Linked DNA regions of Homo sapiens. The protein of the gene in region 7 interacts with the protein of the main gene of each other region in a pairwise test. Each region holds a gene or a part of one and is shown on either strand. Other genes may lie near its edges. The genes, in order: SYNM, MYBPC3, USP25, WNK1, DYSF, REPS1 and FLNC.

Region 1 (4,220 bases), on a different chromosome or scaffold from region 7:
AGATGTGCCCGTCTGAGATCCACGGTGCCCTGACAGGTTAGAATACAGTGCCGAGCTGTGATTGAAACTTGCCAAAGGTGCTTTCTGCCTTGAAAATAGATTCCTTTCATTTTCCCTCTGTAGTAGTGAGTCGGTATAGTGATAGGATTTGTTTCTGAATTCTGTAGAAATTGAACAAAGCATTCATTAAAATGACAGTCATCATTACCCTTTTCCATCTACAAGCATTGTTGCAGGCCAAATCCCATTCCATCATAATAAATATACACTGTTACCACAGAAAGCTCATTATAAAGATAAGTTATATTTGGTGCCCAAATTATTTTTTGGCAGTTTACAAAATCCTGTTACAATAAAATGTAGCACTACAAATACTTCAGCCTAACACGTTTCTCCAGTTACTGATATTAAAATACTCACTCATCTTAACATTAATCATAAAGCACAATGCATATCCCAGAGAGGTCAGAGGTGCTCGTTTTTGTGGCTGAAATTTCACAATCTTATATTTTGAAATCATTAATTTCTGCTTTTTGAGGTAAGTTTAATTTACTGTAGCAGAGAAGAGCTCTGTAATTACAAAGTGTGTCATTATTAAACACCAAATAGCATTATCCTCCACTATTTAATATACTCTTCTGTTTCACTGATTTCCATATTGGGCCAACAAGTATTAAAGAATTTAACTTCTTTAAGCTTTCTGATCTTTTATTTTACATTTAACACTTATCTGAAAAGGAGCCAGTGCAGAAACACCCCGGTCTGTCTTAGTGTCATGATCCTGAAGTTGGGAGGCAGTCCTCAGGGCTTCCAGCTTTGCTCCAGGCTGTTTGCAGACAGTGCTACCCTTTGGGGTGTCCACACCCCAGCAGGGGAAACCGCTCTTTAGGAATGGCAGCTGGTGGTTAGAACGCAGCCAGGAGCACCGTCCACCCCGAGAGTGCCCCTGGTGTCTACCCACACCCCAGCTGGCTCAGCGGGGACAGGGCTTTCTCTCTCCCTTATGGAGCCAAGGCCAGAGGCCTCCTTTGCACAGATCCCAAGATACAGGAAAGAGACCAGGCCAGGACATTTTCTACAAGACTCCTCTTTTCAGGTCAACTGATCCTACTGATCCAACTGAGAAGTCCCAGAAGATGAACCCCCAGGCAATAGTGCAGGGACCATCTCATTTACAGTTAAGATTCAACAAGAAACATGGAAGATTACAGACTGGGTTTAGGTCCACCGGCTAGCGGGCAAGCGGCCAACATTATTTTATGCAATATTATAAAAGAAACACAAGCACACTAACAAGTATTGATAAGTTCACTACTTAGGAACTTATCTGTATATTTACTCAACAGAACAGAACTATCTAGAAGCTCAACGTCTAATAAAAATTCCCAACTAGTAATTTTTATTCTAAAGCTTTTGGCATAATATGTAATTGCCAGAATAAATTTAGTTTACAAATATTAAGTCTCTATTTCCTTCAAGAAGCTTGAAAAATAATGAATGAATGAATGAATGAATGAATGAATGAAGCAAGTTAACAGCAACAGCTGTTAGCCCCTCTGTGTGCTCTCCCTCGGCCCCAAAATCACAACTGGGAAAATTTGAGCAAGGCCCTGGCTTAGACTGTTGGTCTTCCTCGGAGCTCCTGGGCCCTTTTCTTCCTTCTCCCCTCTCTCTAGGTTACATGATGGATGTCCAAACTTAGGTATCCACAGGTTAAAAATGTAGGTAACTAAGTAAACCTTGAAATCTGGGGAGTTAATTCTTGTTTTATAGATGTCACACGTTAACTGATGCCAGGCAGGTTGACCAATGCCTACCCTTCCATGAACACCTTTGCTTTTTTCAAACTTACTCTCAAAATTAGAAAGAAAATTTGCTGCATGTTGTCTAAGACCAGATCCCTTCCAGTTATAGATGACTAGAACCCAAATATTCTTCTCAACCCAGTGACATGTCAAATCCATGAGTTGCCTAAAAGAAACAATGAAGACTAAAACCATGCTGCTGCCTAAGGTGTGAACTCAACATTCTATACGTAATTTAATCGACACTTGCTTAGCCAGAGCTCTTCAAGATTCTATAGGGCTTTAAAAGGTTAAAAAACAAGTTATCCCTCAGTTTCTTAGGATCTTTCTAATGAACATTAATGATCTTATGTCAGTTCTGCAGCCATAGGAAGGATGGGCCCTGTCCTGAGGCTCTTGGCCTCAATAAGGTAGTCTTCAAGGCACCAGGACACATTTTCCTGAGCTGCTCACAACAACCTAGGGTGGTGTAAACAATGTAACTATTCCCATCTCTCTTCCTGTTAGGGTAGCAGGTTCCAGAGTGCTGCCTGCCTGCCATCCAAGGCCATACCTCCCTCTACAGGTGTAACAACCATAACCCCTTGGTCTGGAAATGGAAGGAGTGTCCCTTCCAGGGGTGTGAAACACAAGTTCAGGTGCACTCCTGCTCGCCCTCACACTGCCCAGTGCCATTAGCCCCTTCCGCTCCTGCATCCTGTCGAGAGAGGGACCAAGTTTATCAAGCACCTTCCCAAACATTCTCATTCACATAATTGAAATTATGTCACACTAAACTAAAATCTATTTGGTACTTAAATGAGAGATGAACTCCTGTTATCTAAACACCATATCTAACCCGTTCTTCCCGATGATGGTGCTTTACTATCTAGCCACAGAATAAACAGTTCAGATGCCTAAAGCTAAGTCAAGTCATTAGCTTTTACTTACCTGACGGCATGTTTTCAACGTGCTCAGCCCAGATCACTATCTCTGGATTACTTTCTCCTTCCAATAAGGCCCTGTAAAAATAATTTACAAACATAATTCATTAGGAAACGAAAGAGTAAGAAGTGCCTCTAATAAAACGTATCGTGGTATGCGGCCAATGACCATAGTGTCACCTGTTTTAGGACTTCTACCTGAAGAGGAGACTTGGGCAGGGCTGCACCATAGGGCTGGCAAGCCCACCCACCAGCCTCAGCAGACCTGGGCCAGGCCACCTGCTCTGCTCACCGCCACATCCCTGGCAGCCAGCATGGCGCTCAACCCCTACTAGCCCAGTGAACAAAATGACCAGGCCAGGGCTTCGGCAGTACTGGCGAGCCAAGCCCTTCTAGAAAGCTTTCTCAGTCCAGGGTGAAGAGGAGCAGGAGCAAGGGGGCACTGGAGAGATGTGGGCCCCAGGCTAGAGGGCCCCAGAGCAGCTACACCCCCCACTGGGTTCTTCCTGGAGTCACAGCTGGTGGGGGCAGCTTGCAGAGGGCTGACCAGGAGACGGCAGGGACTGACACTTATAAGGCAGCCAGACTGCATCTGTGGTTTCAAACTGCATTCCAGGGGGTCACCTTGGAGACGACAAAAAGAAGTAGAAGGCAGGCAGACGGAAAAGGTAGTGCTAAAGCGCCCCCCGTCAGTAGCCCCTCCCCATGCCACCCCCAGGGGCCTCACTTCATCCAAATTGGCATCCTGTTATCTCCTTTAATAAAATGGTGAGAAGTACCCAACAAGGTGATTTCTTTGACTATGTCTGCGCCAAAGTTCTAAAATTATAGAAGTTTCATTAGGTTGTTCACGTCTACTGCTTCAGATCCCAGAGCTGAGGAGAGTGGTCCCAGCAGACCCAGCCTGCTGGCGAGGGGCTTAGCACCGGGATGCCTGTCAGCCAGTCACTCGCGAAGACCCCTTGGGCTGCTGGCAGCTCTGGGTGCAACAGTTTCTCAGTTGCTAGAGCAACATGTGAAGTCACTAACTCCGGTTCCAAGAAATACACTGCACACGGCAAAAGGCATCCAGAACAAGAGCCCACTGAGAAATGCCAATCTTATGGCTGAGAGCTGGGCACAAAAACGGAGCAGGGTGCCCACACCCGAGCAGGGACTTGGCAGCTTGGACAAACTGCACTGAGTTGTATTTCCATCTGTTGAAACATGGTGAGCCCCATGAACACGAGAGCCCTGTGAGCAGCTGGAAGAAAGCAAAGGAGGCATGAGGCACTCTCGCGAAGGCGCACACAGCGGGCCTGCCCCGGCGCAGTGACTGCGGGATGCTTGTGTGTGGACGGGGCATGTGCAGAGGCCCGAGTCCAGAGCCCCAGCCCTTCGCTCAGGGCAGAGGCCAGGAAACAGGACACCAACCCATTAATCCCACGCCCTCATGACCAAGCATTGTAGGTTCCAGGAACGCAAACAGCTTTCACTGCTGAGAAAGTTCTGA
Region 2 (3,680 bases), on a different chromosome or scaffold from region 7:
GTTGAGAGGGAGCACAAGGTCAAGGTCAAGGTCAGCTTAGGATGAAGGGAGCCAGGGAGCAGCCCAGTCATGAGGGCTTCCTGGCAATGAGAGGGTGTCCACATCCTTGTGATGGCCATCAGCACACTTCACAGAGACCCTCTGCCTGAGGTGTGAGGGCCCCACAGGGACCCTGCTGGGGGCAGCAACACACCCGGCCAAGTGTGGCACCTCCATGGAGACCTCGCCAAGGGCTCGGCACCACGTAGGTAGAAAGTGATGAAAGACAAACGAGCCTCCTCCTGACCTCAGTCTCACTCACCTTCTTGTCAAACACCCACTCATCGCTGTCACCTGTGTCCTCTGGGGCATCTGGGGCTGGCCTGGCTGGGGCCTTATTCCCCTGGGAACAGGGCAGGAGGGAAGTAGGGAGCAGAGGAGCTGACTCAGCCTGGAAGCGCCCCTCTGCTGCTTCTTCCACCCCCTGACCCACACTGCCCACCTTGCCTGCCCCCTGACCAGTCTCTCCCATGGGGTAGCCAACAGCAGGGCGTGCACATGTGGGTGGGGTGTGCAGCAGGTCCTAGCACTTGGCTGGTTCCACACACCCATCTTATAGATGGGGAGACTGAGGAGGGACCCACAGTACCTGCGTGATAGCCTTCTGCCAGATCACAGTGGGAGCAGGGTCCCCAGAGATAGGGACGTCCAGACGTAGCTTATTTCCAGCTACAACCACAATGGTGTCTGGTATGCGGCCTGGGCAGTCCAGGTGGATCTTGGGAGGTTCTGCAGAAGACACAATGTAGTTCAGAGAAACGGGAGAGCCAGGAGGAGCACAGGTCACTGGGGCGGGGCTGCTCAAGAGCCTGGGCCCCTGGTTATTGGTTTTTTAGATTTGTATTGAGGTATAGTTTATGCTCAGATCTGACAGTAGGCTGAGTTCTGACAGATGAATACACCCATGCAATTATTAATCCAACCAAGATCTGGAACATTCCCATCACCCCAGGACGTTGGCTGGGAGGCTTGTAATATTCAGGTCAGGTCACCTAGCATAGCATTTTGAAAACTGGGGGAACATCAGTGTCTTGCCACACACATACACACACACACAATACACACACACACACGCATATACACATACACACAGACACACATACACATACACACATGCACACACAGACACACACATGCACACAGACACAAATACACATACATACACGCACACACACAGACACAGACACACATATATACATACACACACAGACACATGCACACACACACACGCGCGCACACATGCACGCACACATGCACACATTAAAAAGGTTCCCTGGCCAAATAAATCAGGAATCTGCCCTCAGTTAAACAAAGCAAAGCAGTCTGGACGCAGTGGCTCACGCCTGTAATCCCAGCACTTTGGGAGGCCGAGGCAGGCAGATCATGAGATCAGGAGATCGAAACCATCCTGGCTAACATGGTGAAACCCCGTCTCTACTAAAAATACAAAAAATAATTAGCTGGGCATGGTGGCGGGCGCCTGTAGTCCCAGCTACTCAGGAGGCTGAGGCAGGAGAGTGGTGTGAACCTGGGAGGCGGAGCTTGCAGTGAGCCGAGATCGCGCCACTTCTCTCCAGCGTGGGCGACAGAGGGAGACTCCGTCTCAAAAAAAATAAAAATAAAAAAAAAGGAAGAAGAAGAAAAGATGTAATAATAACAGTCACACATGTGACAGCACTTGACAGGTCTGATACATCATGTCACCTCATCTTTATAACTATCCTATGAGGTGGCACTATCAGGGTTCCCATTTTAGAGAAGAGGAAACTGAGGCTCACAGAGATTATAATTGACCCATGGTCATGAGTGGCAAAGCTGAAGCTGGGCCCCAGGACCCCCACTTTTGATCCTTGCTCTTCCCTCTGTGAGTGGAGGGGAGGCCTGCGTGGGTGGGTTGCGGGAAAGTGAGCAGAACCAAGACTCAGGGGCCCCAAGACTTACCCTGCCTGGGTACGAAGTCAATCTTGACCTCTGCAAGAGAAGGAAGAGCAAGTAGCACGGGGGCAAAGGCAGGGCCCAGTGACAGGGGCTCCTGGCCCCACTGCCCCGACCCACCCTACCCTGGAGCAGGCTCACCCATGAAGTGGAGCTTGGCTGACAGGTTGCAGGCGAAGCCCTCGGGCACAAAGCTGTAGTCAGCCTCGTCGGCAGGTGTGACGTCGTCAATGGTCAGTTTGTGGACCCTGCAGGGGAGCAGTGGCTCAGGGGACCCCACTGGGCCACACACCCCTGGCCTTGCCAGATACCCCAGCCAGGGTCCCAGGAGGCCCTCACCTTGTCCTGGCTTGTTGGTATTCTGATTTTTAAAAATGCCTTTTTTTTTCTATATTATCTAATTTTCCAGCTTTTTAATGTGCCTTCAGAGGTAGGCAGCGTAAAAGTGATTTCTACATCAAAGCATCTCCTTGGCTGGGCCCTTGGAGACTGGGCAGGGGCTGGGTCTCATTAATCTCTGTGAACTTGGGCCCAGCACGGCCAGCCCAGTTGCTCCAGGGATGAGCAAGAGGGCGGGAGAGGCAGTGAGGGCCTCTGGCCAGAGCCGGCCTCCTTGGTGGCCTCCTGCCCTGCCCTGGTCACAAGCTGGGGGAGGGTGCTGGGGAGCGCTCGACCCCGTCCGTGTCTCTCCCTGCTGCCTCTTTGTCTCTGTCCCTCTGTTCTTCTCTGTCTCTGACGAACTCTCCTATGTGTGTGCCTCCCTGTGCATATCTTTCTGTCTCTATAGAACTATTTCTGTCTTTCTGTCTCTTTGTCTTTTTGGGTCTGTCTGTTTCTCCCTCTCTGTGGGTCTCTGTCTCAGTCTCTGTCCTGTCTCTGTGCATCTGCCTCTCTGTCCACCTGTCTTTATCTCTCTCTCTCTGTTTCTCCCTGTGTCTCTCTCTGTCTCCATCTCAGTCTCCACCTGTCCCATCCACCTGCCCTGCACACTCACCGCCCGATGTGGGACACCTTTATGCGGCTGTCGGGCACCAGCTCCTTCCCATTCTTCAGCCACACACCCCGAACATTCTCATCTGAGACCTCACATTTGAACACCGCCTGGTCCTTTGCGCCCACCATCAGGTCTGCGATGCTCTGGTACACCTCCAGCTTCTTTTCTGCAGGGCAGGGCAGAGCCATTGAGCTCGGGAGGGTGTGTGGGTGTGGCGTGAATCCCTGTGGAGGGCGTGTGGGCCCATGGGCGCTGGTGCGCACGTGTCTGGGTGCATGTGGGCATGTGAAAACACGTGTGCCTGTGTGTGCCATGTTTGCCTGTGATGGTGCAGTGCACATAAGGAACCTCAAGTGTCTGAGGGGTGGTGATGCTCACCAGGCCCGTATGACCCTCTCAGTACCCTCTGGAGCGGTCACCTCAGCATCGTCATTTTAGAGATGAGAAGGATGAGGTTTAGGCTGTCAAAGGCCCAAGGTCACAGAGGCCTTGAGCCCAGGTTTGCCTGCTCCCCTACAGGGCTAGGTGGGGTGGGGGCTGAGGGGTCCAAGCCCTAAAGCCTCATGTGCCCCCCCAGCCAGGCTCACCCTGCACAATGAGCTCAGCCAGCGCCTGGCCCCCGCTAGTGCACAGTGCATAGTGCCCCGCGTCCTCCAGCATGGCCTCGTTGATGATCAGGTGGTGTCTCTGCCCGTCCTTCTTGAACCGGTAT
Region 3 (4,220 bases), on a different chromosome or scaffold from region 7:
CACACACACACACACACACGCACACGCACACAAGTGCACACACCCCACCCAGAGCACTGTCCTTATTTTTCTTATTTTGCTGCATGCCAGTAAAAACTCTGTTACAGACTAGTAATGGGATCATAGATACTCATAAATCTGTTAGAGCTATTAAAAATTAAAATTCACATTTCTAATTCTTAAGCCCAAAGAAAATTTTTTAATCACCGGAACTCCCTGTGCAAACTTAGATTTAGTACCTAATTGATATGTACAAACATTGATATTGTATGACATTTCTCCAATGGAGTAACTGTGAATACCAGTTTGATATAAATTTAGAGCAGCAAACTAGAAAATCAGGCCATCTGCTATGTCATTAATCAGCTAAGCAATCCAGGGAAAATCTTTTGGTCCCTGTGAACCTGATATTGAGATTATAAAAATGGGGAGCCAAACTAGTTTATCTTAAAACCCTTTCTGGAAAAGAAAAATGACTATAATATTTAAATATAAAATCCAGACGTGATTTCCCTTCTCAATATTAACATTACACATATCCATCTGAGGTGACAGTAACCATGCTATGAGACACTTCTTACCTCTGGTGTCATTTTCTATTTCTGTCCTCCAGCGATGTAAACAACTTTCCAGCACAGAAAGTTCTTCCTCCGTTATGTGCCTTGGTGCCGGATGCATGGGCAAATCTGGAGGTATCCGGGACTGAGTAAATGGTTTGTGTATTACTGATCTCGATGAAATGGCAGCAACTGATGAAGGTGATGTGCTTGGCAGTTCTGAAGATAGGGCTCCCTGTTGTTCTGTTGTGCTGTATCAAAGCATAGAGTATTTCTTATTAACCTTTCAAGCTGAAACTCTTGACAAAGATCGTGCCAAACCCACAGTATTAAATTGGCTTGTAATTCAAAAGAAAAAATCTTAAAGAAATATGTGGATTGATCTAACATCCAAATGAGATTTTTAATACATAAGAACTAAATTATTATAAGATGAAGTTGTAGCTTTAGAGTTAAAACAGCTTAATCATATTTATTTCTAAAAAACAAGAAAATCTTACGCATGGTGATATTATTTTCCCTGGCTTATCAGCTTACATTACAGAAACAAATTCTAATTTGATAGTACTATTTTTATGGATCATAAAATGCTGAATCTTATATATGTACATACCAAAACATGCTAAAGTATAATTCTGAACTGAAAAAAAATGTGATTAAAATTTTAATCCATAACCATAAAATCTACTGAAATAATAAAAAAACTCCCAGAGGACATACAGTCTTCTAAGTGAATCTACTCTTAGGAGTTCACTGAAGTAAATCAAAGCATACATTTTATAGAAACTGTCTTTAAAGGCAGCAGTTACATTATTGTGTAATAAAGGTAACAACTGTCTCTTGCATCAGGATTACTTTTTACCTTGGTAATGTCTGTGATGGTATGGAACCACTAGGTGGGGAACTAGCGTCAATATCGTCAACAGGAGAAGTGCAAACAGGTTTACTTGAGGCAAATTCCAATGCATACTGAAGAACATCTACCAAGGGGAATCGTTTGGGACCGGAACCATAGCTTAAATATCTGTTAATCATAAAATGTACAAATGCTTTTATTTCTATATACAGCATATTTGGGCCTTTATTATTATTATAAAACGTGATACGATACTTCAATAAAACTTCCTCAGCAATAAAATTCATTTGCTTTAAAACGAAGATGGTAAAACTGAATATACACTTAAGAAAAACATTAAAAGTTCCCCAAAGACAGGAAACCAAGGCCGATTGGGACTGAATGTGAGTATATACTGTTATAATCTGTAAATGCTGTTCTAAATTGTAACTCAATAGGAAGATGAAAACTGACATCTCCTGAGACTGTTTTTATTTTTAGATCTGGCATCTGGTCTCATGATCAAGACAGTGATGTGTACTATCCTCCTATCTTTTACCACTAATCATGTTTCAATATGATTATTCATACTTTTTAAGAATAAAAATCATTAAAATACAATATACTATTTGATGTAAGAAGTTTTAGACTACTAATTTGAAAATTCCTAAAATAGGGGAATGCAGAGCAGATTGGGGTTTGCAAACTGAAATGACTTGTGACATTTCAGCCTTTAGATTTCTGTCTGGCCTGTAGAACATTTCTCAGTCCAGATTCTGACGTCTTTTAGAAATGATCCAAATCAATAGACAACAGTGAGGCCATACTCATACATGGTACCATCCACTGGTATGGAATGGCATTCATTCCCTGTACACACAGATTGCTCTCTAGGCTCCCGGCACATACCATCTTACACCTGACACAATTTCCTCCTTTACGAAGCTGCTGAGAAGACTTGGTAGGCAGCTGAGTTTGTATCCTGTTTTAAGGAGAAAAACTCAGATACCATTCATTTTAATGAAAATCTCAAGAGTAATCTTTAGTTTCATGCAAAAAGGAAGGTCAAAACTATATTCATTTAACTTTGTATCTATTTTCAGCAGTAGGAACATTACCTGTTGACAATGAGATATTTAATTTTAAACACTAGAATAATTTTTTAAAGTCTACTATAGATTTTTAGTTTCAAGCAAAACTCAAAACTATTCACACAATATTAACTACTCCTAAAATTATAAATCACTCAAAGCAAATTTGAAATTAAAAATCTAGTCACCAAATACATGGTTTCTGATAATTATCTCCTAATTTCATAAAAGTTAAAATACCTTTCTAGCCTTTGTTGTAATACCGTGAGGTAATCTTTCAGTCTCTTGATCTCTTCCCTCTTAATTCTTGTTATTTCTCTGTTTCTGTGCATGTATCTATCAGAAAAAGGTAATCATTAGCATTTCCGAATATCATGAAAGTAGATGCAATATGGCCAGATGCCAGCGTACCCGGCCTACCACTCTGGGACGCCAAGGCGGGAGGATCACCTGAGGTCAGGAGTTCAAGACCAGCCTGGCCAACATGGTGAAATCTCGTCTCTACTAAAATACAAAAATTAGCCAGCCACGATGGTGGGTGTCTGTAATCCCAGCTACTCGGGAAGCTGAGACAGGAGAATCATTTGAACCCAGGAGATGGTGTTTGCAGTGAGCCAAGATCGCACCACTGCACTCCAGCCTGGGCGACAGAGCAAGACTCTGTCTCAAAACAAAAAAGAAGGAAAGACAGAAAGATAGACAGAAAGACAGACAGAAAAAAACAAAAGAAAGAAAGACAGGAAAACAGGAAGACAGAAAGACAGGAAGACAGAGAGACAGAAAGAAAGACAGAAAGATAGATAGATACAATATTAAGTACAGACATCACCACAAAGCATCAATTCATTCAAAATTGTATAAGATGTAAGGTAGATAATACAAAATGGTATTTTTTAAAATTCTGAATTTTAAGATTACAAAATTCATCTTTTTTAAATTTCCTTATAACATTATTCCCAAAAACTATACTTTTCTAATACAAAGTAAATTTCATCTACCTTGACAAATGGTATTAGGTATATTATGCAAAAGTAGAAATTAATTCTAAGAAAATTATGCAGAATTTTCCTCTAAACAATATTTTCTCCCTTACTAAACTGTTTCAAACTAAGTCATGCAGTATATCAAACCATACCTGTCCAAATATAAAACTTGGGGAAATTCTAATTTGTTGTGAATTTTTTCTGGTCTTCCCAATGCCTGATTAAATTCAAATCTTGACAATTCAAATGTTAACACAGGTGGTAATTCAGTAAACCAATGCTGAAAGGAAATAAAACAATAACAAAAACTTTAATACCACCTTTGTTTTCTTCACTGCAATCTTAGGCACAGGATGTGGGCACTGACATTGTTATATGTATCACCACAATGCGGACCTGACAAGTAACTGGGTACACAGTTTAGTTAAAACTCAACCTCTTTCTAAAAGTTTTCCACACCTCTTGAAAATTCCAAGAGTGGGTATAATATATGATCAGGAAAAAAAGAAATCTCACAACTATCCTTCGAAAATAATTCTTTACATTAGAATTTCTAGCCCAAAGAAAAAGACACTGGTTAAAACCATGACTTAGTAGCTCAAGTCTTCTCTGTCTTCTTCAACGTGATGTTGAATGGCACTTATACTTAACCAAAGCATCAAAATCCTGTGATAAAATAACTTATGAGAGGGAGTACTCAAAAAAAAATTTATATCATAAATCGTCACAACTCTCATACTAAAAATGAAAAAAT
Region 4 (4,220 bases), on a different chromosome or scaffold from region 7:
TGGGGACTTGAAGTGACGGGGATGTAGTAGATATTGAGACAACTGCAGGTATTGTGATACTTGAAACTACGCTGGAAAGTACTGGTGATTCAGACACAGGTGGTATGGGGAGACCACCTGAAGTTACCACACCTGTGCTGGTGGCAACTCCAGCAATCCCCTCTTCAGTGGGCACTGTAACCTCAGACTGAATTACTGATGTGGAAATGTCATTAGGAGGGCTGCTTGTTGCAGGGACTGGTGCTGTGGCTGCTGCTGTGGTTGGGACTCCAGCAATGCTACTTAAGAAAGGAGGTACTACTGGAAATGTTGGTCCTGTATGACTAAAGTTTGGAGGTGCTGTGTTGGGTCCTTCTGTCATTTGGGCACGTCTAAGTTCAGAAAAGGCCTGTTGTAGACTAAGGGATGATGCAGAGTGAGACAAGTTCATTCCAGGGCTCTGAGCTGTAGAGGCAGCAACTGCAAAGGAATACAAAAAGATAAGAATCAGCTGATTTTAAAAGGATGGATTCAAAAGATTGTCTGCTAGCCTAAGTCAGCTCCTATAAATATCTGTTTTTGATAAAAAATATGGAGTAATCTTAAAACATAGACAACAGTACTAAGTGCAGAAATAAACACATACTACAATATCTATTATACAGACTATATCTTGGTATGGCCGTGCTTCTTGGCTTTTTCTGTAATTCTCTGTATTCTTCATCTATTTCCCTCTCCCATATGTTTATCTGTTGGTTATAACTTCAGTTTTCTATTCTTTTTTATTATCTGTGTCATCATAAATTACTGCTTTATGATTAAGCTTTCAACATAGCAGAGGCACTGTAGAATTTACATAACAATGTGGCAGAATCAATCCCTTACCTGTATCTGTTATTTCACTGGGGAAAACTTTTGATTCTCGTAATCGGCTTTCTGGCACAGGACTCACTATAAACCGCCTTCCCGCAGAATGAACAACTTGAGTTAAAGAACTGGTAGGAATGCCTGGTCAAAAACAAACAAACAAACGTAACTTAATAGCATTATTATTATAAATATTGTTAGACTTCATTATTGGCACATACAACTGCTTTTTTTGAGGCACGGTCTCATTCTCTCACCCAGGCTGGAGTGCAGTGGCGCGATCTCAGCTCACTGCAACCTCCGCCTCCTGGGTTCAAGCGATTCTCGTGCCTCGGCCTCCTGAGTAGCTGGGACTACAGAAGCCTGCCACCACCCTCGGCTAATGGCTTCTTAAGTCAAAGGTAAAAACAAGGAAAGAAAATAAATTCACCTATTTGCTGTGGCATGGAAGACGCAGGAATTGGTTGTTTGAACTCTCCTTCCAATTTCTACAACAAACAAAAGTGATTAAATACATTCTCAAATGCAATCTCAATGACTAGGCAAAGCAAACTGCCACATGTGAAGAGAACATAAAAGTTTGTTGTCGGTCATGGGTGTCAGGTGATATCACTGGACATTTTGCATAGCAAATTTAGAACTATGAAAATATTTTAAATCAACAAAGTTTCACTATGGGAGTGGTGAACCTACCTGAGAACCTGAAAAGCCATAGTCATCCTTTCCTTGTAGACTCTCCAATCCCTGATCACCCTCTGGTTCCACACTGACATCCTCACTGAGCATTTCATCAGCTTTTTCAATAATTTCTCGCACTTGATCCACAAACGACTCTCTCTCTATTGCTAGAATAAAGTCATTGTTCACCTGTAAAAGAAATGTGATGTCAGTCTAATTAGTGTCATTTCTCAAACTTTATGTCACTTTTATGACTTCTGTCCTATCTGCATACTTACCTATATTTTTATTTATTTTGTACTCAAGTTAGCTCTTCTCTTTTTAAGAACTTCAATATCTAGTTAGACATAGCCTAGACAAAAACATCACTAAATCACAGGTTGGGTGTGATAGTTTTATTCACATTGAAGTAAATGCATAACTTTAAAAAAACATGGATTATAAAATATGGCATATTTGCCTAGAGCAATGGCTATTAAGATCAAGTACTAAGGAAAAACCTAGAACTCCAAATGCAGACGTACCATAATTGTTGCTATCTCCTCGGGGTTGTCACCATCTAGGTCAAATTTGAATGTAACCATTTTCCTATTATGAGTCTCTAATTGACATTCTACTACTCGGTCTCCTTTATTTGAAACCTAAAAAGAAAAAAGGTACATCATCTCCAAAGACCATATTCAGCTTTATTACTGAATTTCAGAAAAGCAATGCAGATTAGCACTTGACTTTATGTCTAAGGAAGCATAGTGTTATCGCTGTTCCTTGGAGCACTAGTACTTTGTCTCTTAAACTGGTAGCAAGAAAAATCTTTGAGAAGACGTTAGCCTTTGAGCTACTTACTAAAACTCTCTATTCTTTTTCTAAAAGATAAGTAGTGCTTTATCATAGAAATATGGAATGTAAGAATATCATTTGGCTAATTATAAGATCCTATACATTCATCAATTCATCTAAGCCTTAAGAAATATTTAAATGATATTAACTGCTGGCCCTATCATAGCTTTATGAACTACCTTTTCATTTTTCTAAAAATGTGATATTTAAGTCAAAGAGACTGTGGGCATGAAATGAGAAGAGTACTATATAAATTATCTGGCTGGGTGCCTGTAATCCCAGTGGTTTGGGAGGCTGAGGCAGGTGAGTCACCTGAGGTCAGGAGTTTGAAACCAGCCTGACCAATATGGTGAAACCCTGTCTCTACTAAAAATACAAAAACTAGCCGTGCGTGGTGGCACGTGTCTGTAGTCCCAGCTACTTGGGAGGCTGAGGCAGGAGAATCGCTTGAACCCAGGAGGCACTGCAATCACAGTGAGAAGAGATCATGCCACTGCACTCCAGCCTGGGCGACAGAGCGAGACTCCGTCTAAAAAAAAAAAAAATTATCTGTCACACACAGATAGTTATCTTTATTTTATGAAGTGAGTGGTTTGGATTTGATGACCTCTAAAATCTTTTTCAGTGTCAAATTCCTTTAACAACATGAAACTCACAAATTAGGAATACTTACATTCAAAATTCTTAATTTTGGGCGTGAAGTTTTTTCATGTCGAGAGCGACTCCTTACAGATTTTCGGTAATGCCGTTTTGTAGTTCTTCCTTCATGCCTTCCACTGGAAGATGGGACGTTCTCATTGCCATCACTCATACCTGAAGCAACATCTGAATGTGCACTTTGAAATTTAAAAAGAAAAAAAAGTGCAGTTTATAATATGAGATTTAAAGGTCTGACAGTTTGGCGTTTCATACCGTCTTATTTACCAGTCAAGGAAGGAGAATTCTAGTTTTACGTACCTGTCTACAGAGGAAGCCAAAGTGGTCGGCTGGGTAGCTTGGGTCTGTGCTACTGCAACTGGCTCTGCAGGAGCAACCTGAGAGACTCCCTGAGTACTCTGTGAATCGAAAAGATAACTCAAATCTCGGTAGTAATAGATTTATCATTCACTATCCCCAATAATCTACTTATTTTTTTCCTTATCCCTCCCCACTACGTCCTAGAAGCACTAAATTTACTAGTAAATTCTCAATATTCAGCATCTAGAGATAATGGTCTTAAAATTCCAAAGGAAGTTGCTAAAGCTAGTCTCTGGTATAGACTGCATGGTATGAGGTCAGCCAACATATCTGCTAGGCAGTGTGAACCTACAACTTGCCATGCAGCCAGCATCTTACCAAGAGTGTGCAATAGCGCAGACAGAGCATAGTACAAAGATGAATTCAGATCTTCTCCTAGCAGGGCAAAAATGATTGCTGAGAGCACAGGAGGGTAAGATACTCTTATGACTGCCAATGGAAAAAGTTTGTGAAAGGACAAGAATAATGGCTAAAGTACTAGCTAGAGAAGTGAAGTGCTAATAGGGTTCATCTTCTCCAAGGCACACTCACTTCCCAACAGAACAGCCAGTGGAAACAAGGACCCCACATTGGCATTTCATTCTGCTGTAAGAAAAAGTCATGCAGAAGTTAGTTTGACATGGTCTCCAAATAAGTTCTAAACCAGGGGAGCCTGTTTCTTTCTCCTTTATCATTGTTGTCCAATTACATATATACGTTTTACATATAAACATGCAGTAATTCTATTTACCTCCAAAACTGCTTGCTGGGAGGATGTAGTGGGGGCTTGTGCTAAACTCCCTCCTGGCTGGGACACTTGAACCTGTCCTCCTACACCACCCATAGGAACTAAAAGATTTGAT
Region 5 (4,096 bases), on a different chromosome or scaffold from region 7:
TCAGAGCCATATTCCTTGGTGGAGGGATGCCAGAAACAGGGAAGATACTGGAGGGCAGTGGTCCGAGGCCAGCGCACCAACCTGTCCCCCACGTCTCATCTCTTCCAGGCCTCGCTGGTCCTGCAGGTGTCCTACACACCGCTGCCTGGAGCTGTGCCCCTGTTCCCGCCCCCTACTCCTCTGGAGCCCTCCCCGACTCTGCCTGACCTGGATGTAGTGGCAGGTGGGTAGCCCACGTTGGCCTGGCTGGGCCCCAGCAAGAAGGCCGGCAGTGGCACTTGAGCCTGGGGGCTGGGAGCTGCAGCGAGGCTTCCCAGCCTTTGCTGCCCTCCCCAGGTTGGAGGCTGCCCAGGCCTGGAAAGAAGAGGGTGCAGTGGGTGGGAAGTCCTGAGGGCTGCCTTCTGCTGTGCAGAAAGAAGGGGCAGCAGGCACGTTCCCTTGGGCGGTGCAGGGAGTAATGTGAGGGTGCCTCCAAGCCCCAGCTGCCTGGGGACGGGGCTGAGCCCAGGCTGGGTGTTCTGAGCTGTGCAGTTCCAAGAAGGGTGTGTGGGGATGGGGTCTGACCCAGGTGATACCTGAGGCCCCACAAACTCCCCAGAACCGAATGTTTCCCTACCTCAGCACCCAGCAGGCCTTTGGTGATGGTGTGTGACAAAAGAACTAGTTTTTTTTCTTGAAAGAGCCCTGAACTGAACTTCAGGGTTCCAGTCCTGCCTTTGACACTGAGTCTCTGTGTGACTTTGGGCTGATTACTTTCCCTCTCTGGGCCCATAGATTATTTGTGAAGGGAGCAGACTAAGTTAGCTAAGTGCTGTGCCTGTCTCAGCTCTCTTCACTTGGTTCTGCCAGGCTGGTCAAGCGAGGACCCAGCCCGGGGTGGCTGGCTCTCCACTGGTGGGCCTGGGTGTGGGAGCCTCCATGTGGTCCAGCCTGCTGGGGTTGGGAGGAAGCTACATAGACGGGCTAGTGGGCACTTGCCCATGGGAAAGATTCTAGAGTTTTTCTCTTAGTGAAGGGAGCTAGAAGCAAGCACAGCATTAAAACCGGAGCAGCCCATGTCTCAATTGAGTGTGCCCTGTGCCTGACCTGGGGCCAGCCCAGCACAGGGCTCTGTGGTGAGGTCGGCAGAGCAGAGCTGTCTTGTTGGGGCTCAGCACTGTCCGAGCTTAGAGATGGGAGATCAGTCTGGACTGGAGTAACCTGGTAATCCTGAGCTGTGTGGCTGGAGTGGGCTCAGGGGAGGAAGGAGAGGTGCCCGTGGTGGCAGAGGGTGGGGAGCAGGGAGGGTCCGAATACTCTGGGACTGTGTTGAGGTGGATCTGACAGAGTTAGGTGCAGGCCAATCAGTGGAGGCTTCCAGACACGCCTGGGAGGTGGTGAGAAGGAACAGGTGCCACTGGGCTCCACAGCTATTTCTGAGCTTTGCACCAGGCTGGGGTGGGCGGGGAAGGCAGGGTTGGGGATGGAGGTGCAGTAGGTTGGTTTCCTTCACCCCAACCTCCTCCCTCCCCTCCCGGGGTTATGCCCTGCCCACAAGACAGGCGGGGGACAGAGCCGGGCCGAGACTTGGTCCCTGCTCAGTGACAGCACCATGGACACGAGATACTCTGGAAAGAAGTGGCCGGCCCCCACGGGTGAGACACGGGCCAGGACTGTCCTGATCCCAGACCCTCCCTGTAACTGTCTCACTAGCTGCCATGGTCAGCTTGCTGGAGCGGGGCCAGGTGGCAGAGGACTCCTCCTGCAGGACTTGGCGGGTGGGAGGGCTAGGGCCATTCTGTTTTCTTCCTGTTGACTAACTGGACTGACTGCCCTCAAGTTTCAGCTGCTGGAAGCTCCTCTTCTTTCTACCTTATCCATCCTGGCTCACTGATGGGGAGGGAGGAGGGAGAGGAAGAGGGGATGAGTCTTAGGGCCCATGCCTTTTGGATCTTCTGCCCCCTGGGCTGGGTCCCAGGGGCAGGGGCAGGGGCAGGGCCAGAGGGATCCAGGCCTCATTAGGGCCCTCTCCTCTTAGACACAGGAGGAGAGGAAGACACAGAGGACCAGGGACTCACTGGAGATGAGGCGGAGCCATTCCTGGATCAAAGCGGAGGCCCGGGGGCTCCCACCACCCCAAGGAAACTACCTTCACGTCCTCCGCCCCACTACCCCGGGATCAAAAGAAAGCGAAGTGCGCCTACATCTAGAAAGCTGCTGTCAGACAAACCGCAGGATTTCCAGGTGATGAACGGGCTTTCTCTGACCCCAGGCTCCTCTTCAGCCATCAGCTGCGGGTGCCAGGCACCTGCCTGGTTTGTCCAGCTTCAGGGGAAGATGTGTGTGGGATCCTCAGGGCCCTCCTGTGGGGGAATCTGTAGTTTCCCTGGGCCTGGGCAGATGCCAAACAGGGAGTTCACATCTTACATCCACAGAATAAGCTTCTGCCGAGACCTGTGGTTTTGCGCTTAAAAAAAAAAAAAAAAAAAAAGTCACTGCAGAGATTCAGCATGTCTTTGCATCTCTGATCAGAGAAAAACCTGATTTTTCTAACCAGGGTATATCCAACCAGCAAGCTCCTGGCTATTCAGGTGTGGTCTGTGTCCAGCACCTTCCGCATCACCTGTATACTTGTTAGACATGCAGAGTCTACTCAGACCTGCTCTACCAGAATCTGCATTTTAACAAGATCCTTACCTCAAAGAAGCTCTGTCTAACATCTTTTTTTTCTCCTTATATCTATCCCCCTGCATATAGCCATGGATTTTTCTGAGAGTCATGTGGAATTTGAATTTGTTCAAGCTCATCACAGAATAAAAGCTATTAATATGAACACTTTGACACATTTTTATCCAAAAATCCATCCCATTTTATTTGCTTTTAACTTTGGTCCTTTGCCTATTTTTTTTTTCTTTTCAAAAGAATTTTCTATTTTGATGTAGTCACACAGTGATATTTAACTCTTTACAACTACTTTTAAGGTTAAAAGCAAGAATCTTAAATCTCTATTTATAATACTAAGTGCAACAAATTGCAAAAATATATTTCTATTCTAAATCATGGTAATTTAAGCAGAAGTCCTAGCTCTAACCACTGTTTGCCCCAAAAGACAAAATTCTAGCCCCCATACTACTATTCCCCAAACATGTTCATATTGCCTTTGTTCTCTTTATGGAAATACCATATGTTTATTTTAGACACTTTGGAAAATATATTAAAATGAGGAGATTAAAAATCACTCATCCATCTTCCCATTGCTATTAAGAATATATCCTCCCATATTATGCAATTTACAAAAAAAAAAACAGTTGGTCAGTAAATAACAGTTGATTCTAAAGTGGAGCCAGTAAATATCTTATTTTTTTCCATAGAATTGCCTTAATATTGTAAAATTTCATATTTTAAAATATCTTACCTAATATTTGGAAGCATAGACGTTCTTGAAGTCTTCATTTACTTACAGCTCAATGGCAAAAATTCTTAATTTATTTCTCAGAATGTAAGAAAGCATTGCATCTTATAAAGAATAAAGACTATTTCTGGGGTCACTTCACTGTGTAAGTTCGACCTCTGAGGGAATTGTCAATAAAGAATATTCAAGCCACTTAAAAATGCCAGTATCAATGGGGTCTCGGGTGGGGCTTGTGCCAATGGCTGAATGACATAAATGGGGGCTGTATCTGCCCACCCCTGGGGTTTAATGTGGGTAGCCGACGAGGGGCAGCCTGGCAGCTCTTCTATGGAGCTGTGGAATTTTATAGATGTAAGGGGCCTTGGTGGGAAAATATGATAGTTCGTATAATGCTCTTCCTAATTCCTTTTTAATACTTTCCCCAAGAAGCCAGTGGTGAGATGGTCCCTGAGATTTCTGACTCTTGGGGTGGATGGTGGGTGGTCCTTAACTCTTCCCCCTTCCTCCTGCTCTTTCCTCCTTCTGGCTTTCAGATCAGGGTCCAGGTGATCGAGGGGCGCCAGCTGCCGGGGGTGAACATCAAGCCTGTGGTCAAGGTTACCGCTGCAGGGCAGACCAAGCGGACGCGGATCCACAAGGGAAACAGCCCACTCTTCAATGAGGTGGGAGACATGGGGCATGAGGGCCAGAACCTTGGTGGGCCTT
Region 6 (4,220 bases), on a different chromosome or scaffold from region 7:
CTAAAGTAATTAAAACACTGGGTTACAGCTCCAGGACTAGCATACAAAACGGTAACATAAGGAGCCCAGAAATAAGCACATATAAATATAGCAGTTGCTTTTCAAGTTAATGGAGAAAAGATGAGTTTTTAAATAAATGGTTAACTTATTCTTTTTTTTTGCGGGGGGAGACAGAGTCTTGCTCTGTTGCCCAGGCTTGAGTGAAGTAAAACCATCATAGCTTACTGCAGCCTTGAACTCCTAGGCAAAAGTGATCCTCCCACTTCAGCCTCCTGAGTAGTTGGGACTATAGGCATGTGCCACCACATCCAGTTAATTTTTAACTAAATTTTTTTTCGTATAGATGAGATCTCACCATGTTGCCAGGGCTGGTCTTGAACTCCTGGCCTCAAGCAGTCCTCCTACCTTGGCCTCCCAGAGTGTTGCAATTACAGGCATGAACCACTGCTCCTGGCCTCAATAGTTAACTATTGAGGAGGATCAAAAGGATATCTGATTTGTTTCTCATTCCAAAATAAATTCCAGTTTGGTCAGACTTGTATATTTTCAATATTAATCATAAACATTCTAGAAGAAAACATGTATAAAGACCTTTTTTCTAAGTCTAGCAAACCCAAAAGTCCTAAAGGGGAAATGACAAGCTTGTATAAAAATTGGAAAATTCTGTATCACCAAAACAGCTTTTTTGGAAAAAACAGATAAACTAGAAAACAACATGTGCAATATGATCTGGTTTCTGCCTAAGTCATCAGCTCCATCTGCTGCATTCCCTCCTCCCCATCAATTCTACACACACTTACAGCTACACTCTGGTCTTTCCTTCCTGAGGATGCTCAGTAAATAGTCATTGAATAAATGAATTAATTCCATGACAGTTTGCAGGTCAATATGTATAATATAATAAAACCTTTTTTTTTTTTATGAGATGGAGTTTCAGTCTGTCACCCAGTCTGGAGGGCAGTGGCATGATCTCGGCTCACTGCAACCTCCATCTCCCGAGTTCAAATGATCCTCTCACCTCAGCCCCCCGAGTACTTAGAATTACCAGTGCGCACCACCACACCTGGCTAACTTTTGTATTTTTAGTAGACATGGGTTTCACCGTGTTGGCCAGACTGGTCTTGAACTCTTGATCCCAAGTAATCTGCCCTCCTTGGCCTCCCAAAGTGCTGTGATTACAGGCATGAGCCACTACCCCTGGCCACAATAAAACTTCTTAAAATGAGTAAAGAAGATTAACAGTCCATTTAAAGTTGCCAGAGAACAAGTTGGGCAAGTCAGGAAAAGAAATGCAAATGGCTAACAAATATAAAACTTTTAATAAATACCAATTAAAACAGCATTGAGATTCTGTTTCCCTTCTTGAACACTACCTCCTCATTTCTAACCATTTCCCTGGTGTCTTCCCAAAATGTCAACAAACCATACTGTGATCTCCTTTTAGGTCTTCCCTCTGTCTAGCATATACCTGGCATATGTTAGTTGCATTGTTATATAAACAAAAGTATTTAAGATATGTAATGAACCTCTAAGAGGCGTCAAGTGGGCAGAAGAGTAGAGGATTGGGGCTGCATGACCTTGCCTTTTTAAACTCCCCTTTTCCTCATAGTTCCCTTGATGGTGTTAACCTGCCTGTTTATTCTCTTTGCCCTTTTACATTTCTTCAGAAGGACATGCTCCTTAGTGGCAGGAACAGGAACTTCTTCCAGTGCTGGTCAGCCAGCAAAAATGACTCTTTTTTGTGTATGTAAATAAATGGCTGTTATTGTTGTGATACAATTGCTTAATCATTAATAGGTCCTTTTTTTGAAGTCCTGTGAATAGTTTTATTCAGACTTAATACCACAGCATCTCAGATACCTTATCTTCCTTTGAGTGTTATGGAAAAATAGACTAAAACTGCTCTCTCTATACAAAAGTTTGTGTTATTTGAAAAGATACAACAGGCATGCCTAGTGTTTATTTTAAGATAAGATTATAATATCTGCATAGTAGAAACCTCCAGCTTTTAGAGTTATGATTTTGTAATCTGAAATCCTATTTTTTGAGTCTAATATTTACTTGTGCTAGCAAGTCTAGAAATACTTGTTGAAAGACTGGAATGATTAATGTAGATCCTTGAACACTTTCATGCTCTAAAAAAGACAAATTTTGTTTGTTTTAAAGAAGAGTAGTGTAGCCATATTAAACACATTTGGAAAATAAGAGGGAAAACCCGACTCAATCTCATCTGAAAAAATTGTGATAGACTTTTAAAAAATAGTTTCCAAATTTGTATTTATGTGGTTAAAATTAGGTATCTTGCCTTTCTTCCCCACTTGATAAATCCTTAGTATTTTTCCATGTTGTTATATCATTTAAAGACCGTCACTTTAAATGGCTGCATAATAGTCTCTTAGTCACATGGTCCTATTGTATGTGCAGTGCTTATGAATAAGAGTGGGTGGTACGTTGTTTCTTTAAAAATGTGACTCATAACAAAAATTTATTCTAAGAAAATTGCTAATCATATGGATTTTGATAAATAGGAGAATGATGACCTTATTGCAAAGCAGTGACTTTTTGTTTGTAAACATATGAACCTGAAACTTGAGGAAGTTGGTTGTCAGTTGTGAGTATTATACCATCTATTAGATAGATATTTTGAGACGTTACAAACAAGTTGGGTAGCTGCTTATTTTTGAAGGGAGATTTTTGTTGTGAATCTTAATGTTAACATTATGTTATTTTATAGATCATGGAGCTTTGTGGTGCAACAAGACTTGGTTATTTTGGAAGAAGTCAGTTCTACATTGCTTTGAAACTTGTAGCTGTTGCCCAGTCTGGTTTCCCTTTAAGAGTGGAAAGTATAAATACAGGTAAATATAGAGTACACTAGTAACCGAAAGAAAATAGGCTTCTATTACAAATGAAGTCAAGTCAATAGAACTCTTGTGTCTTTCTGATCTTATAGTGGCATTTGTGACCTTGAGTGAAGTGTCGTGACTTTATTCCCACTACCTTGCATTTCTCACTTGAAAATACTAGAAAAATATGTCTGACCTGTATTACGGCATAGTATATGTACTTCATCTGTATTTGACTATATGTACTGTTCAAATGGCAATTTTTTAAGAATTAATTTACCAAAAGTTGTTTAGAAATATTTTAGGCGAATAGTTTTATTAAGGTAAATGATAAATTACAGCGACCATCTTCATGTATAGCGTCCCTGTGTTCTTCATTTCCAATAAAACAACATTATACTTTGTATTTTTGTTTGTTTGTTTGTTTGGGAAGGCTGTGGAGGCTTCAGTTGAAATTAAGAAGTAACAGTTAACCTAAACTTTTTGATCGATAAGAGACAATATTAAAATATTGGCAGACTAAAATCTAGTTATAGACATCTGACCACATTACAAGTTTGTATTAGTCCATTTTAACACTGCTATAAAGAAATCCCTGAGACTGGGTAATGTATAAACAAGAGAGGTTTAATTGACTCACTTCTGCATAGCTCGGGAGGCCACAGGAAACCTACAATCGTGGCAGAACGTAAATGGAAAGCAAGGCACATCTTATGTGGCCACAGGAGAGAGAGAGAGAGAGAGAGAGAGAGAGAGAGAGAGAGAGCAAGGGGGAATAGCCACAGACATTTAAACCATCAGATCTCATGAGAACTTGCTCACTATCACAAGAGCAGCATGGGGGAACCGCCCCCATGATCTAATCACCTCCCATGTGGGAATTACAATTCAAGATGAGATTTGGGTGGGAACACAGAGTCAAACCATATCGAAGTGTTACATCAGATAATTTGTTTTTCAAGTATTTAGAGGCTTGTTGATGTGAAAGAAGATAGAAATTCTATAAAGAAAGGCACTTAAATGCAGAGGGTTCTTTCATTTTCATAGAGTAAAGGGGAAAGAGAAAAATTAAGATTTTAAAAATAATCTGTACAGAAAAATTTCTGTAAAATTCTGTAAATATCAGAATTTGTAGAAATAGTTTTAAGTACCAGTTTAGTTTATTGGTCGGTAGAGGTTTTCATTGTGGACCTCTAGTTTGCCACACATCATTCTTCTAGTGTTGGGAGTTTACATTCTTTTCAGGTAATTTTGAATTCTTTTACATGTATATTGAATAAGCTTAATAGTTTCCTTCCTTCATGTGGAGGTTCTAAACAGAGACGAAAGTAATCATGTAATGGAGGTAAGTACGCTTTCCTCTGAAATGATTTT
Region 7 (3,568 bases):
TAATAGCAGTAAGTGGGGCAAGAGCCACCCTGGGAGTGAGGGGTATTCGGGTAGGGTGGACCGGAGTCTCCTCATGGTGTCACTTGCCCTCCACGCAGAGGTGGCTGTGGGACAGGAACAAGCATTCTCTGTGAACACACGAGGGGCTGGCGGTCAGGGCCAACTGGATGTGCGGATGACTTCGCCCTCTCGCCGGCCCATCCCCTGCAAGCTGGAGCCAGGCGGTGGAGCGGAAGCCCAGGCTGTGCGCTACATGCCCCCGGAGGAGGGGCCCTACAAGGTGGATATCACCTACGATGGTCACCCGGTGCCTGGCAGCCCGTTTGCTGTGGAGGGTGTCCTGCCCCCTGATCCCTCCAAGGTGAGGAGATAGGAGCTGGTTGGGGCTGGGAGTTGGGGACTTGTTGGGAAGATAGATGAGTCATAGGGGGCAGAGGCCAGAGGGACTTATGTGCCTGGAGTGGGCACAGCCAAGGGTGTGGGGCTGAGGCCAGCCCCACCCCACCACCTGCCTTGGAGACAACTTAGCTATTAAGAGCCTGGCCTTGGAGTCACACCTGGGCTTGAATCCCAGGTCCACTAACTGGGGCAAATTGCTTCATCTCGCTGCCTCAATGTCATCACCTGGGATTGTTATAAGCACTCAGTCCACAGTAGCAGCCACAGTTGGAGGTGATGAGTTGGGTGGGGGCCATGAAGGCTGGGATGAGGAGGCCAGGTGCAGGGAACCCACAACCTGCCTCTTCCCCTAGGTCTGTGCTTATGGCCCGGGTCTCAAGGGTGGACTGGTAGGCACCCCCGCGCCATTCTCCATCGACACCAAGGGGGCTGGCACAGGTGGCCTGGGGCTGACCGTAGAGGGCCCCTGCGAGGCCAAGATCGAGTGCCAGGACAATGGTGATGGCTCATGTGCTGTCAGCTACCTGCCCACGGAGCCTGGCGAGTACACCATCAACATCCTGTTTGCTGAGGCCCACATCCCTGGCTCGCCCTTCAAAGCCACCATTCGGCCTGTGTTTGACCCGAGCAAGGTGCGGGCCAGTGGACCGGGCCTGGAGCGCGGCAAGGTCGGTGAGGCAGCCACCTTCACTGTGGACTGCTCAGAGGCAGGCGAGGCGGAGCTGACCATTGAGATCCTGTCGGATGCCGGGGTCAAGGCCGAGGTGCTGATCCACAACAACGCGGATGGCACCTACCACATCACCTACAGCCCTGCCTTCCCTGGCACCTACACCATTACCATCAAGTATGGCGGGCATCCCGTGCCCAAATTCCCCACCCGTGTCCATGTGCAGCCTGCGGTCGATACCAGTGGCGTCAAGGTCTCAGGGCCTGGTGTTGAGCCACACGGTGAGTGGACAGGAGGAGCCAAGAAAGGTCAAGTGGCAGGTGCAGGAGCTGGGTAGTCCGTGGGAGGGAGGGAAGAAGAGCTGAGAGCTGGAAGAGCAACCTGGGGTGAAGGGAGGGCTCTCGGAGCAGCCCCAGAGTCCTTACTGGCCCAGAAACCCCAGAGAAGGAGTGGAGGGGAAGACCGGGGGTGGAGATTGGCCTCTGCTCTTGTGGCAAAACTGCACCTGCCTCTGGGCGTTTTTCTGGAGAGATCTCTTCTTTCATGTGCTTAAGGGGTACCCTGATCCAAAAAGCTAAAACTCTGCTCTGGACGGGGGCACGGGGAAAGCTTTGGGGTAGAGGATGACAAGAGTCAGAAGACAGTAAGTGGGAATGGGCCATCTGCCAGGGGCCAGACCCTGGCTAGGCATGGGCCACGGCAGAGGGATGCAAGACCCAGGCCCACAGCCTGGTGGGTGACTCAAGTGAACAGAGAATGTCACTACATGGAGAAGGGAGTGAAGGCAGAGGCTGGAGCTCACAGAGGTGCAGGGGAGGGTGTGGGGCCCAGGCTCCGATTAGAGGAGCAGCCTGGGAGTTGGGGAGTGGGAGAGGAGGGGGAGAGGAGGGTGAGAGGAGGGGAAGAGGAGGGGAAGAGGAGAGGGAGAGGAGAGGGAAAGGAGGGGGAGAGGAGAGGGAGCATCTGTGTGAAGGCTGCCCCCACCCCTGCTGAACACGCCACCCCTGGGCTCCAGGTGTCCTGCGGGAGGTGACCACTGAGTTCACTGTGGATGCAAGATCCCTAACAGCCACAGGCGGCAACCACGTGACGGCTCGTGTGCTCAACCCCTCGGGGGCCAAGACAGACACCTATGTGACAGACAATGGGGACGGCACCTACCGAGTGCAGTACACCGCCTACGAGGAGGGTGAGGGCCGGTGGGCCAGGCTAGTGGGCAGGGCTGGGCAAGTGGGCAGGGCCGGGATCTGATGATATTGCCCTCGGGGCAGGAGGGGTGGTGGGGGCGCACACTCCCTGATTGATGCCCCTGTGGCTGGCTTCCAGGCGTGCATCTGGTGGAGGTCCTGTATGATGAGGTCGCTGTGCCCAAGAGCCCCTTCCGAGTGGGCGTGACCGAGGGCTGTGATCCCACCCGCGTCCGAGCCTTCGGGCCAGGCCTGGAGGGTGGCTTGGTCAACAAGGCCAACCGATTCACTGTGGAGACCAGGTATCCTCCCCCTTTGCTAGCCTAAATCTGTGACCACCCTTTCCCAGCCCCTGGCCCTCCTCGCTCATCCCTCTGCCTGGGCCTCAGCCCCACCCCATCCTCTCTCAGGGGTGAGGCAGGAGCAGACCCCCTCCAGGACCCCAGATTGGCCCCTGTAGCTCGTTTCTCCTCAGCTGGGTCCCCAGCGGCCTGCCCTCTTTCCTCCCTGTCCCCCCATTCAGCTACTCCCTCATCCTCACTCACTGGTCTTATGAAGCTGATGGGGGGATGTTATCTCTCAGGGGAGCGGGCACCGGGGGCCTTGGCCTAGCCATCGAGGGTCCCTCGGAAGCCAAGATGTCCTGCAAGGACAACAAGGATGGTAGCTGCACCGTGGAGTACATCCCCTTCACTCCTGGAGACTATGACGTCAACATCACCTTCGGGGGGCGGCCCATCCCAGGTGTGCAGAGAGAGTGGTCGGGGTCTCAGGGAAGACAAGGGAGGGTGCAGGATGCTCGCCCCACAAGGGGGAAACTGGAAGGAAGTTGGGTAAGAATGTTCATAGAGAGGACAGCCTAGAGTGGGTTGGGGCCGGAGCCCGGCCAGAGGGAGGACGTGGAGGAGGCAGGCAATGAGGGTTGATGTGACAGCCCCCCTAGTCAATCACAGGAACACACTCTGGCCTCCTAGCCCCTTGTCTGGAGCTCAAGACCTTGGCTTTGCAGGTCCACCACTCACTGTGTGTCCAGAAACTCAGACACAGTCCACTCCTCTTGGCGGCTCAGGCCAGCCTTGGGCCTTCTTGCACGCATCGTCTGCAGAACTCCCCTGCCCTCTGCAGACCCAGCTGCCCGGGCAGGTCATGTCTTCAAATATTGTATGACTTGGGACTGCTGAAATTGGAAATTTTTTCCCTTATCTAATTTCCCATCTTTTTATTATTTCAGCCACAGTGTCAGAAATACATTTCATTTTTGAAAACATTTTATTTTCACATTTTATTAATTTAGGAAGGCCTTCTCTTCCAG

The links.
Region 1: the proteins of FLNC (region 7) and SYNM interact in a two-hybrid assay, tested with the Homo sapiens proteins (one study listed by IntAct).
Region 2: the proteins of FLNC (region 7) and MYBPC3 interact in a two-hybrid assay, tested with the Homo sapiens proteins (one study listed by IntAct).
Region 3: the proteins of FLNC (region 7) and USP25 interact in a two-hybrid assay, tested with the Homo sapiens proteins (one study listed by BioGRID).
Region 4: the proteins of FLNC (region 7) and WNK1 interact in a two-hybrid assay, tested with the Homo sapiens proteins (one large-scale study listed by BioGRID).
Region 5: the proteins of FLNC (region 7) and DYSF interact in a two-hybrid assay, tested with the Homo sapiens proteins (one large-scale study listed by BioGRID and IntAct).
Region 6: the proteins of FLNC (region 7) and REPS1 interact in a two-hybrid assay, tested with the Homo sapiens proteins (one large-scale study listed by BioGRID and IntAct).

What each region holds. Positions count from the first base shown.
Region 1 is NC_000015.10:99,125,308-99,129,527, reverse strand, and holds part of SYNM (synemin), read right to left. Parts: intron 2,807-4,220; coding exon 2,736-2,806; intron 162-2,735; coding exon 1-161. UniProt on the Homo sapiens protein: Type-VI intermediate filament (IF) which plays an important cytoskeletal role within the muscle cell cytoskeleton.
Region 2 is NC_000011.10:47,339,023-47,342,702, forward strand, and holds part of MYBPC3 (myosin-binding protein C, cardiac-type), read right to left. Parts: coding exon 3,556-3,680; intron 3,135-3,555; coding exon 2,969-3,134; intron 2,223-2,968; coding exon 2,116-2,222; intron 2,011-2,115; coding exon 1,981-2,010; intron 769-1,980; coding exon 629-768; intron 383-628; coding exon 302-382; intron 1-301. UniProt on the Homo sapiens protein: Thick filament-associated protein located in the crossbridge region of vertebrate striated muscle a bands. In vitro it binds MHC, F-actin and native thin filaments, and modifies the activity of actin-activated myosin ATPase.
Region 3 is NC_000021.9:15,823,565-15,827,784, reverse strand, and holds part of USP25 (ubiquitin carboxyl-terminal hydrolase 25), read right to left. Parts: intron 3,747-4,220; coding exon 3,619-3,746; intron 2,820-3,618; coding exon 2,724-2,819; intron 1,582-2,723; coding exon 1,420-1,581; intron 809-1,419; coding exon 582-808; intron 1-581. UniProt on the Homo sapiens protein: Deubiquitinating enzyme that hydrolyzes ubiquitin moieties conjugated to substrates and thus, functions in various biological processes including inflammation and immune response.
Region 4 is NC_000012.12:880,888-885,107, reverse strand, and holds part of WNK1 (serine/threonine-protein kinase WNK1), read right to left. Parts: coding exon 4,109-4,220; intron 3,417-4,108; coding exon 3,319-3,416; intron 3,198-3,318; coding exon 3,035-3,197; intron 2,166-3,034; coding exon 2,049-2,165; intron 1,714-2,048; coding exon 1,540-1,713; intron 1,335-1,539; coding exon 1,277-1,334; intron 988-1,276; coding exon 865-987; intron 460-864; coding exon 1-459. UniProt on the Homo sapiens protein: Serine/threonine-protein kinase component of the WNK1-SPAK/OSR1 kinase cascade, which acts as a key regulator of blood pressure and regulatory volume increase by promoting ion influx.
Region 5 is NC_000002.12:71,511,699-71,515,794, forward strand, and holds part of DYSF (dysferlin), read left to right. Parts: intron 1-108; coding exon 109-223; intron 224-1,541; coding exon 1,542-1,634; intron 1,635-2,017; coding exon 2,018-2,223; intron 2,224-3,924; coding exon 3,925-4,053; intron 4,054-4,096. UniProt on the Homo sapiens protein: Key calcium ion sensor involved in the Ca(2+)-triggered synaptic vesicle-plasma membrane fusion.
Region 6 is NC_000006.12:138,946,428-138,950,647, reverse strand, and holds part of REPS1 (ralBP1-associated Eps domain-containing protein 1), read left to right. Parts: intron 1-2,734; coding exon 2,735-2,858; intron 2,859-4,220. UniProt on the Homo sapiens protein: May coordinate the cellular actions of activated EGF receptors and Ral-GTPases.
Region 7 is NC_000007.14:128,843,906-128,847,473, forward strand, and holds part of FLNC (filamin-C), read left to right. Parts: coding exon 1-8; intron 9-98; coding exon 99-361; intron 362-752; coding exon 753-1,350; intron 1,351-2,084; coding exon 2,085-2,258; intron 2,259-2,395; coding exon 2,396-2,558; intron 2,559-2,839; coding exon 2,840-3,000; intron 3,001-3,568.